Linked DNA regions of Homo sapiens. The protein of the gene in region 3 purifies or fractionates together with the protein of the main gene of each other region. This does not show direct contact. Each region holds a gene or a part of one and is shown on either strand. Other genes may lie near its edges. The genes, in order: DCX, ZNF235 and SERTAD4.

Region 1 (3,655 bases), on a different chromosome or scaffold from region 3:
GTGGTTTAAAAACAGATCTACAAATTCTTCAACACTCTTTCCTTTAATAAATAGAGTCTGGTTCCTCTCTCTTTGAATGTAGGTTGGACTTAGTGACTGCTTCCAATGAATATAATAAAGGAGAAGTGACAGTGTTGGCTATGGAGACTAGATCACAAAAGGCAATACATCTTGTTCTTTATTCATTCTCTTGGATCACAAACTAAGGTAGGAGATCTTGCCAACAGCCATATTGTAAGTGGATCCTACAGCCCCAGTTGAGCCTTCAGATGACTGCAGCCCCTACTAATATTTTAATGATACCCACATGAGAGACTCTGAGCCAGAACCACCTAGATAAAACACTCTAGAATTTCTTGCCCACCAAAACTGTGAGATAAAAAAAAAATGCCTTTTCTTTAAGCCACTAAGTTTTGGGGTAATGAATTTGTTTCACAGCAGGATACAAGTAATACAGGTTAGAAATCCCAGAAATAGCTACTGCTGTTTCTGAGAAATGATTAGCTAAGCAATTATTGCCAGACTTTATTAATCTTGACCAAGTGTTTTAAAGTGTATTTTTTGCAATTCTCTGCTTAAAAACTGTCAAATTTTATTCTCAGCCCAGGTGTTAAAACCTAGGTCTTTGTAGTTTCAGCAATATAAATTTGCTTAGATATAGATTTATGTGCTCTTCTGTACATTTGAACAAGATAGCATCAAGGCACATGTATTTTTTATTTCTTCAGCAAACATTATCTAAATGCTTGATTGGTCTCTAGCACCATGTTGGGTAAAATAGGTACTGTTGTGCATCTATTTATTCACAAATATTACTGGAGCATCTACTAGGGGCCAGGCACTATGCTCTGCACTGATGATATGAAAATGAACCTACCACATTACCTTTGAGGGGCTCAGCATTTAATTGGGGAAGTAGACAGGTAAACACATACTTGACAACACAGTGTGGTGAATATTACCCCAAAGATATGAATGGCATGCTATGGTATTGCAGAGACTGGAACAATTATCTCTATGTGAGGTCTTGAAGGATGAATAGGAGTTTTCAAGCAAAAAAGGCTGATGGGTTAGAGGATGGCATTCCAGGTATGGGGGAACAGGGAGTGCAAAGACATGGAAGTACTAAAAGCCTGGGTTGCCTTTTCATACTTTAATTTCCTCAACCCAAGAATAAAGAGATGGCTGGTAATATGCATGCTCCTGGCAGTCTGATGCAGGCAGTACAGGCTATTCATCTTGGCACCAGCATTTCATAGCCATCAGGCTACTCATGATGCCCCAAACTGAAGGGCCCTTTTGTTTTCCCAAGGCTCTCAGACTGCAAGAATTCTCATGATAAATTCTGAGCCTTGGGATGACAAATGTATAAGTATTTTGGACCATATAGTTTCCTTAGTGTGAAGAACCTCAAATTGTGCATAAATCTAAGCTTCTGAACTTGGACTTCTAAGGCCTTTTATTTTTGATATTTGTTATAAAAGAATGGAAGACATTGCCTCTTAGATCAGTGTCACTCAAACTGTGGGTCCAAGACAAGATAGGGTTCACATCAGAATGCAAATCAACATACTGCTGCCTTCATCAATAAAATCAGGCTCTGAAAAAAAGGCAGCTGAGCTAAATGGTTTGCTTAATGGCATAGTTTATTTACATTTGGCACAAGCTCCTAATCTTGCCACAGACTGACTGGTAATAAATAGTTCATGGGTTGGCAGTGATCAATAGACGACATGTTTTAGATAACTCACTATCCACTAAATAGAATCTTCTATGGCAAATCTCTTTGTTTTCTTTTAGAACCTGGTCTGTGCTTTACTTTCCGGTTGTGAGGTTTATACAATTTATCTTGTCCCCCTATTTATATGGCATATATATGTAGTGTACTTGTTTCCCTTTTTGTTTTGGCTTCTAATTACTTCAGAGTCAAATTTGAAGCTCAAGTGAGTCAACTATGTTGACACTTTGGGGTGTTGTTTTTTATATTCTTTTTCTTGATTCTGATTTTTAATTTCAGGTTTATGGTTAATTTGATTATTCCATTGAATATGTTTTTGCCACATGATGTTGAAGATGATGAAAATGATGACAACCATGAAAATAAACATTACAGCAAGCATAGACAATGGGCCAGGCTTCTGGTTTGCATCCATTTGAATGGAATAATGGTTGTAGCTGTGCCTCCATGACTCCAAACAAGTTTGACTGTTTTAGTCCCTGAATTGATAGAATAGGGTTTCATGGAGACACAGTGGTGTTCATGAGGAACTGATTCCTCTGCATGCAGAAAGTATTGTCCTCCATAAATGAAGTCAGCGTGCACAGTTAGGAAAAGAGCACTCACCGTCTTGGTCGTTACCTGAGTCAGCTGGAGACTTGCTTCGGCGCATAGGACCAGGGCTCTTGGCTGAAGTCTTCTGAGGTGTTGGGGATGCCTTTGGGCCAGCTGTGGCTGATGGGTTTCCCTTCATGACTCGGCATTCTGGGGCAAAAGGACACAGACAGCTTAGTAGAGGATAAAACAGGCTCAGCATGTTATCAGCCTCTGGAAACCGCAATAACCATCACAGGCCAAAGGACCTAAATGGGTCAGGACTACAATGTGGTCCTTATTATTAGTAGGAGCCATGGTTCTGGGGAGGGAGGCATTAGGGAAACCTTCAAAAGCCACCTGGGCTAAGCTAGGTGTTTAAGCCCCTGAATTACGAAAACAAGGGCAAGAGTCCATAAACAGGTCAAGTAGGCAATTAAATAGTCAATTCAATCATTTATGGACAAGCTAGCTATGTCTCAGAATAGCACCTATTGATATAATGTTTAATTAATTTCCCTGAATTAGAGATTAACAACTCAGAGGTTACAGCTACACAGATGAAACATCCATTGAGTAATTTGAAGGAGAGGTAGAGAGCTACCACTTACTATTACATGCCACACGTTGATAGACACATGATGGATATCATGTCACTTTATATAAATAAGCACTATGACCACCACCATCTTGCATTTATCAAGTTCTTTTCGATTTCCCATGTATGTTATTGCCATCCCTTATGGGGGGTTAATGAATAAATGGGCCAGCAGTGACTCTGCCACTAAAAACTTAAGAAAGCTTGCTGGTGTGTGGGAGAGTCTGCCAAATGTTCTTGTATTTGCCCTAGCCTCAGTCTGACACCTTTGGAACACCCTTTCTATGCAGGTCACTCAGCATCCCCTTCTATGGTCATTTTGGGCACTAATAGTGCTAATTTATTAGAAGGATTATTATTCTCATTTTGCTGATGAGAGTACAAAAAACTTAACCCCTTTGCCTAGGGCCACAAAACAAGAAATTAGTAAAACAAGGTCTAAAAGTCAAGTCCCCTGAGTTCCAGTTTAGTGCTCTTTCTACTACAGTTTTTCCAACCTTGTGCTGTGATGCACAAAGGGGAATCAAACAGCAGAGTAGAGGATATAGTCTCTCCTTTCCTTTAAACACTTTCTTGTTGCCTCCTACTTAAAGGTGCATTGAAATATAAATTAAACAGAAAGATTAGAGGAGCTTTTCTGGTAAATTGAATATTTTAGGAAACTGAGTTAAGCAGAAAGCCCCCTTTTGTTTGTTTCACTTCTTGTTTTGGTTGGTGACCTTTAGTGATCACTGTCCAGAGCTGAA
Region 2 (3,655 bases), on a different chromosome or scaffold from region 3:
CCACGCCTCCCAGGTTCAAGCAATCCCCCCATCTCAGCCTCCTGAGTAGCTGGGACTACAGGCACACCTACATCTAGCTAATTTTTTTACATTTTGTAGAGACAGGGTTTTGCTATGTTAAAGACCCCAGGCTGGTCTTGAACTCCTGACCTCAAGTGATCCACCTGCCAGGCCTCCCAAAGTGCTGGGATTAGAGGCTTGAGCCATCGCGCCCAACCATGACAGATGTTTTTTAAAAAAGTCTCTCAGGTAGCTGAGTGGAGAAGAAATTATCCTGAATAAAGGAAAAATAACAGCTGTTAACTACGATTCCGGCTGCACAGTACTCACCTGAATGCTTACCTCTTTGGGTTTGAAGCTCCTTCATCCAAAGCTTTTCTTCCCTCTCCAACTGGGATATCATATCTGGTTTGAAGGACTGATGTCCTATAAAAAGATAGTATTTAAGTGAAAATGTTAAAGGCAAAGAGTACTGAAAAAATCTGGTTCCAATCACATGATGTAAGTCTCCTCCCTGCCCCAGCATGCAATGTTTAGGGAACATTTTTTTTTGTCATGACACATTATAAGAAATACATTTACTATCACTGGAAATACATTACCCTGTGTAAACTATTGAAATAAAAGGTTAAAGGACCTATTTCTAATCAATATCTGTTTTCATCACATCCCTTACGGCAAGCAGCAGCAGTTATTGCCACAATGTGCACCATTCTGGCTAAGGGGCTCTGATATTGTTACTCTATTTTATTACAAAAATGCTTATGTAACTTACTAATTTACTGACCCACCAATGGATCATGACCCACAAGTTTAAAAAAGATATACGAAATAAGGAATCAGGAGGAGCCAAGCTCAACTGTTCTTTTATAGTTCATGTCTAAAAGAAAATCATCTGTCTTGGAACAAAGGTCAGAAACATCTTGTCTCTATGCTCTAAAGAGATAGAAAAACTCTAGTCTCTGAGCAGTCCCAAAGCCTTGAACAAGGGGACAGAGGCCAGGGATGCCACTAAACATCCCAAAATACACAGGATAGCCTGATACAACACAGAATTATCTGGCCCAAAACATCAATGGCATGGAGGTTGAGAAACCCTGCTGAATTACAGAGGGTGCCTGTCCTTACCCACTGAAACCAGGTTCCTAAAGTTCTCCAGCATCACATCTCGGTACAGCTTCCTCTGGGCAGAGTCCAGCAGCCCCAGCTCCTCCTCAGTGAAGGCCACAGCCACATCCTTGAATGTCACTGCCTCCTAGAACATCAAGCACATGTAACCTCAATCTCACACCCAATGGCCACTGGCACCTAAGCAACTCTTTCTGTAGAGTTACTATTCTTCCCCTTCCACAATCACACCAAAAATGCTAGGGGGAAGAAGGAAAACACCTTGTACATGTAACGTGGTGCCCTTTATATAGTTAAATTCCTAGAACTGTCATTGTTAAATCATGGCATACACACATTTTACCATTTGACTGATAGCACCAAATTTGATAAGAAATTTTGCATTAATTTCTTCCCAACAGTGTTTGATAGTACTACCACTATTTTGTCAATCCAACAGGCCTTCATAAAGCTCTGGCACAAGTACGCAGTTCACTCTCTGGGTTCTCAGGAACATGCTGTCTTGGTCAACTGCAGCAGCATTTAGGGTCAAGGTTAAGAGTACAGGCTCTGGAGTTTGACTGCCTTAGTTCACATTCCAAGGGTCTATCCATTGCTAGTTTTGTGACGCTGGTCACAAAACCTCAATTTCCACATCTGTATAAGAGGACCTATATCATAGGGTCCTTGAAGGGATTAAATGAGTGAATACATATAAGAACTTAGGACAGTGTGTGACATACAGTAAGTACTCAATAAATGTTGATCATTAACTCTTATTATCATCACCATCATCTATTTCATCCCATTCATAGCTGCATGATAGTCCATAAACATGATCTACAATATATTTAACCATTCTAAATAATGCACATTTGATCATTTTAAATTTAAAAATGACAATGCCACAAGAAAACATATTTTTACATAGATCTTAGCCAGCTCGTATGGTTATTTCCTTAAGATAAGTTCCAGCTGGGGGCAATGGCTCACTTCTGTAATCCCAGCACTTTGAGAGGTCGAGACGGGCAGATCACTTGAGGTCAGGAGTTCAAGACCAACCCGACAAACATGGTGAAACCCTGTCTCTACTAAAAATACAAAAATTAGTTGGGCATGATGGCACACATCTGTAATCCCAGCTACTCGGGGGGCTGAGGCAGGAGAATCACTTGAACCCGGCAGGCGGAGGTTGCAGTGAGCCAAGATCATGTCACTGCACTCCAGCCTGAATGACAGAGCGAGACTCCGTCTCAAAAAAAAAAAAAAAAAAAAGGTAAGTTCCAAGAAGTGGTAATTACATTGTAAAAAAATATATATACCTTTGTTTTGCTGGTATAATGTTAATTTTCTCAATTAACTCTTCCCGTAAGAGATTATAAGTATTCCCGATTCTCCATACTCTGGCCAAAACTGGACATTTTTTTTTTTAAATCTTGAGTAATTTGGTGAGTGATATAAACAGCTATTTAATTTTTTTAAAGATGATCTGATATTACTTTTCTTCACATATTGCCTTTCCTTAATCCTACTGGGATTTTTCATGTATCAGTAACATTACTATTAAGAATATTAAGTCATTTTCTAGAATATATAAATTCCTACCCCGCACCTGTTTCCTACTTGTCTCATAAAGTTTGTATATGGTGTTTTTCTGTATGGAAATTAACATTTTTTATCTGAAGACACTGCACATCCCTGCATTTGTTTTGGCTGGAGTTCTGAACATCTATGTACCAAACAACTCGATGACACATGTGGCAAAGAGCCATGCACTGAGAAAGGGAATCTGGTGAAGAGCAATGTGATTTCTGGAGCCCTTCATCCACCAGGACATGCCAGGGACACATACATGTGTAGCATAGCCTCAAGTCCCTGAATAGTCTCTTTTTTTTTTTTCTTTTTTGAGACAGTCTCACTCTGTCACCCAGGCTGGAGTGTAGTGGTGTGATCTTGGCTCACTGCAACTTCTGCCTCCCAGGTTCAAGCAATTTTCCTGCCTCATCTACATGAGTAGCTGGGCTTACAGGTGTGCGCCACCACGCCCAGCTAATTTTTGTATTTTTAGTAGAGACAGGCTTTCACCATGTTGGCCAGGCTGATCTCGAACTCCTGACCTCAAGTGATCCACCTCAGCCCCAAAGTGCTGGGATTACAGGTGAGCCACTGTGCCTGGCCTTCACCCAAATGGAACACCTGAAACTTCTGGCTTAGGCACTGGAAGCTTTAACGTCAGCTGGGCATTGAGTGGACTTCAATAAGTGTCTAAAGGTTCACACCTGTCTCTTTATGTTTAAAATACAGATAAGGCCATCTACATCCTCACAAAGCTGTTCCATGGTGCAAATTCCTGGTGAATCTCCTAGTGCTATAAGACTTTTAAACTAAGTATGTGCATCTTTAAAATATAATAACATGTTAATGAATAAAACAGATACTTAACTATAATACAAGGTTTTACTTAGAATTAAAGAAAGAAATCTAGCTCGTTTGAAACTAAAATTACTTTCTCTGAGTTTGGCATCAGTCAGATGCTACTGCACTAAGC
Region 3 (4,115 bases):
ACAGGGAGCTAGATGAAATGGCTTAATGGTGCTGTTAAGTATTTGTACCTAACAGTCTTGTGTGACAGATGAAAATAGGATGTAACATAATGAAACACACCTGTCTAGGGGCGGCAATCAACAGTCTTACACAGAGAGGGTATTCCCTGCAAGTTTCTGGCTTGCCTGTGATGGGTGATGAGGCTTTTAGAGAGGTGTTATACAGGGCGATTTTTGGTGCCTTACTTTTATCTTAATTTTTGCCAATGTGAAAATTAAGGATAAATCAGAGTTACAGCAGGGATTTAACAAACAGGACAAAAAAAAAAAAAAAAAAAAAACCACAGGGTGGATCAATATGGTTTGGAAACTGTTAACTTTGAACTATTGTGTTCAGCTTTTGATTCGACATCTCTATTCTTTATTTTTGATGCCCAATTGCTTTTGGATTCGCCGTTTTTTCAATAGGGATGGAGGAAATGAGAGAGAGAGCTGTTAGAAAGCAGCACGGGCTGCTCGAGCTTTTCTATGGCAACTGTGTGTTGCTGGGGTTGGGGTTTTCTGGGTTTTGGGTTGTTTTGTTTTGTTTTCTTGTCCAATGAAGTTCACGAACCAGTGGCATGCATTATACTTTTCTCTGTTTTGCATCATTTCACTTGTTTAGATTATAAAAGCATGTGGGTTTTTATATATGAACTTTGCTGTTGATTAAGAAGCACAATGTTAATAAATGATGTGGTGATCAATAAGGTTTATCTTAAAGAATGTAAAGACTTTAGGTTTTTGAAAGTTATTTTGGAGAAATGGGACTTAATCTATAATAGTTACTATGTATTTGGTCTACATTTTCCAAATAATATCTTTAACTTGTACATTTGAAAAGTGTTCAGAGTGGCCCTCCTACCATCCTTCCTTCCACTCCAGCCAACTCTTCCTGCTAAACTGTATTCCAGTTTCCAAGTTTACTAATTGACTTGGGCCTGTTCAAATAATACTTCACAGAAACCAAATGCCAAACGGAGGAAATAAGTAAGCCCTCCCAGTTTCTCCAAGATAAAGCTTTTTTTATTATTGCTATTAATATTAAATATAGGTCTCATTCATACAGTGTATGAGTAGGATCATTTGGACAATTGTCCACAAAGACCAATTTTTAAAACATTTTCTTGTGTTATAGTTAAATAGTCTAGTAATGTTTTGTCCTTTATTTTCAATATTTGATAAACATTTGATGTTCAAAACTTAGCTAATAGATGCTTGTATATGAATGTGTTGTAATAAAGTGAGGTTTTCTTGATATATATTTATTAAGATGATAAAAATTCATTAAGTTTTTTAAATTTTAATGGCTATTGGCTATGTTTCTCTTTTCCATTATTCTCTCTCCTTTAAAAAACTCAAAACATCTAGAAACTGTAGTGGATAGTGGCCACACAGGAGTTTTCTAAATTAAAGAGTATTTTAAAATGCCAATCTGACAGGTGTTTCAGAATGATCCTAGTTCGTAAGTTTAAGTTTCTATTGATTAAGAAGCACAATGTTAATAGATGATGTGGTGATCAATAAGGTTATGTCTGAAAGAATGTAAAGATTTTCCTTTCTGGAGTGTCTCTGAAAAAAATTGTATAACACGAAGCCATAAATACTGAATCTTAGCTGATTGCATTATGAACTGTCAAACTGTGAAGATGACCCATATGTAAACAGTTATAACAGCTACAGATTATTGCTAGTAGCATTCCATACAATTCCATATTAATGTTCTTAGGAGCTAATATTTGATAAAGGGGAAAGCTAGTTAAAAACTAATTAATTTGTCAAATGTAGCATTCTTATTATGAGTGTAATATCTCATGGAGATTTAAATATGAACGAAAGGACTTATCCTTCTGCTTTTTAAAAGCCCCAGCATTACTAGATAGTGTTTTTCTTGAAGGCCAAAGCTGTAAAATGACAAAGTTGGTGATTTTCAGCAGCACTCACCTGAGCTGTGAGCGCCTGCACCTGTTCGGTAGAACCCACTAGAATCACTTCTCTGTAGGATAAGTGATGCCTTTGAATCCAGCAGCATAAAAATCTGTTCTTTTTAGTCATCAAGTTTTTGTTTCCAGGATATTTCTAGCATTGCAAAAAAAAATTTCTTCACCAAACACTAATTCCTAAACACCCATCCAAACCACAAAAATTCTCTTGTTAGTAGGCGAGAGTGCTAGGACTTCCTGTGTTCACCTCCCATGCACCCAGCATTGTCTTTTATGCATGAGATATTCCATTAGATTTTCCTAGAGTGGCCAGGACACCCTTCATAGTAAGTTATATCTCTTAACTGGATTCTATAGTTTTATCTCGAGCAACTTGGAAAAGCTAAGACATCCTCCACCCACACTGGTATCTACGCGCCTGGAAGCTGCACCTTCTCTCATTGCTGTGCTCTGCTTTAAGGAAAACCTGATATGACAGAATCAAGACTATTAAAAGATAAATGAGGGGAAATCTTCATTTAAGAAAGTTGCCTTGCTCCCCAAGAGTGCCTTTAATTGCTATTCCCCTAGGCATCTGGGTGCATATCATTAATGAAATCATTAACCTTTGTCTCTGGTCCTTCCTTTCTAAAAACAGCAGATTATAGAAGGTGGTCTGGCAAAGGGATTTTCAAAGGGCAAAAGTCTCATCATCATCTTTCCACTCAAAATCCTATTATTCTACATTTCACTTTGCAGGGGTCCTAGGGACAGGATTGCAGGGACAGGGGACATGGGAGGAAGACAGAAAAATTCAAAACCAGCAGATGCCACTACCTGGCAATGAATTGAAAATTAGGGGAAAGCATCTTTGGCGTGACCTTTTATTAAGACAACAGAAATTTAGAACATTTTACATGCTTCTTTGTTAAATGGTGAAGCAAGGGAATGAAAGTATTTATTTTTAGAGCTCATAGTTAACTCCATCAAGACATGGCTACCCACCCCTCCAGTTATGAACTTGTATTACAGCTCCACTTGGTGACTTCCTTTCTGTGTATCAGGAGCAGAGCAGAGGACAACTTGTAGAAGACATGACCATTAAGAGACATCAACTTCGCAACAAATATAAGACAAGGATACAAGGATTCCTATGTGATGCAGCTAGGTTTTTATATCCTTCTAACAAATGGTGAGCAGGAGACTTTTTTGGAAATAATTAGTTGTGAAATTCCATTTTTCTGACAGCCCCTTAAATTTGAAGTTATTTCATTTGTAGTTAAGGTTATCACATCCCTGCCAATTTTACTAGATTTTTTCAGAGACAAGCATTCAGCATGGCATTAGTAATGATGGTTTAAACTAGGTGCAGAACTGTCCCATGAAGAGAAGAATGATATCAGTATTTAAATAATAAAAGAAGAGACAATGTATGGTTTATAGTGATTCATTTTAAGATTGCTGTATTTTGATTTTGTGGTTTAAAATAAATGCATTAAGGATCTTTTAAGTTACTACAAGATGCCTCTCTGTTGCTTTCTTAGCTATAGTGCCTAAGCAAGGTATATTATCTTGACATGGCTAAAATGTCTCAATTCTATGTGATATAGCTACACGACCTGGGGTGAAAGAGTTACTAGTTTGGAGATTATTTCCCAGCCTTGGGTACCTGCCATATTTGAGCTGGGAGAACTCACTTAGGAAAAGCACTTGCAAAGATGTAAGTTATGAACACTTGAATCTCGCATCCTGCCATAAAGTGCATCAGCAAGTGACTTTAATAAAACATGCTGTTTAAAATAGTCTGTAATTTCCTGTTTCTGCATTTCCCTTCAGTATCTGTGACAGGCTGAAGAACGATGACTAAACGAAGGGAATTTACACAAGCTAGTCTGGTGGTGTTTGCAAACCATCGCCATGAGCTTCATCTTCTTTGGTAAACAATCCGCTGGTGGGCTGTCTATGGTTGGTTTCTTTTCTTTGTTGTTGATCCAATTTGTTAACTTTGAAAATGCAAACTACTTATTCACAGTGTGGAAACACCTGCTTTTGACCACAATGAAACTGATAGAATGTATGGCGATGTATTAGTTGTTTCTCATGAAATTTCTTATATTTCTCAACCCCATTTCTATGACTCTTCTCTTGATTTAAAAATATGAAAATCGAATAAAA

What was found.
Region 1: the proteins of SERTAD4 (region 3) and DCX purify together in Homo sapiens (affinity purification with mass spectrometry; one large-scale study listed by BioGRID and IntAct). This does not show direct contact.
Region 2: the proteins of SERTAD4 (region 3) and ZNF235 purify together in Homo sapiens (affinity purification with mass spectrometry; one large-scale study listed by BioGRID and IntAct). This does not show direct contact.

Annotation. Positions count from the first base shown.
Region 1 is NC_000023.11:111,328,560-111,332,214, forward strand, and holds part of DCX (neuronal migration protein doublecortin), read right to left. Parts: intron 2,483-3,655; coding exon 2,345-2,482; intron 1-2,344. UniProt on the Homo sapiens protein: Microtubule-associated protein required for initial steps of neuronal dispersion and cortex lamination during cerebral cortex development. May act by competing with the putative neuronal protein kinase DCLK1 in binding to a target protein.
Region 2 is NC_000019.10:44,298,478-44,302,132, forward strand, and holds part of ZNF235 (zinc finger protein 235), read right to left. Parts: intron 1,256-3,655; coding exon 1,129-1,255; intron 427-1,128; coding exon 331-426; intron 1-330. UniProt on the Homo sapiens protein: May be involved in transcriptional regulation.
Region 3 is NC_000001.11:210,242,796-210,246,910, forward strand, and holds the end of SERTAD4 (SERTA domain-containing protein 4), read left to right. Parts: 3' UTR 1-3,004; coding exon of another isoform or gene 3,005-3,132; 3' UTR 3,133-3,460; downstream 3,461-4,115.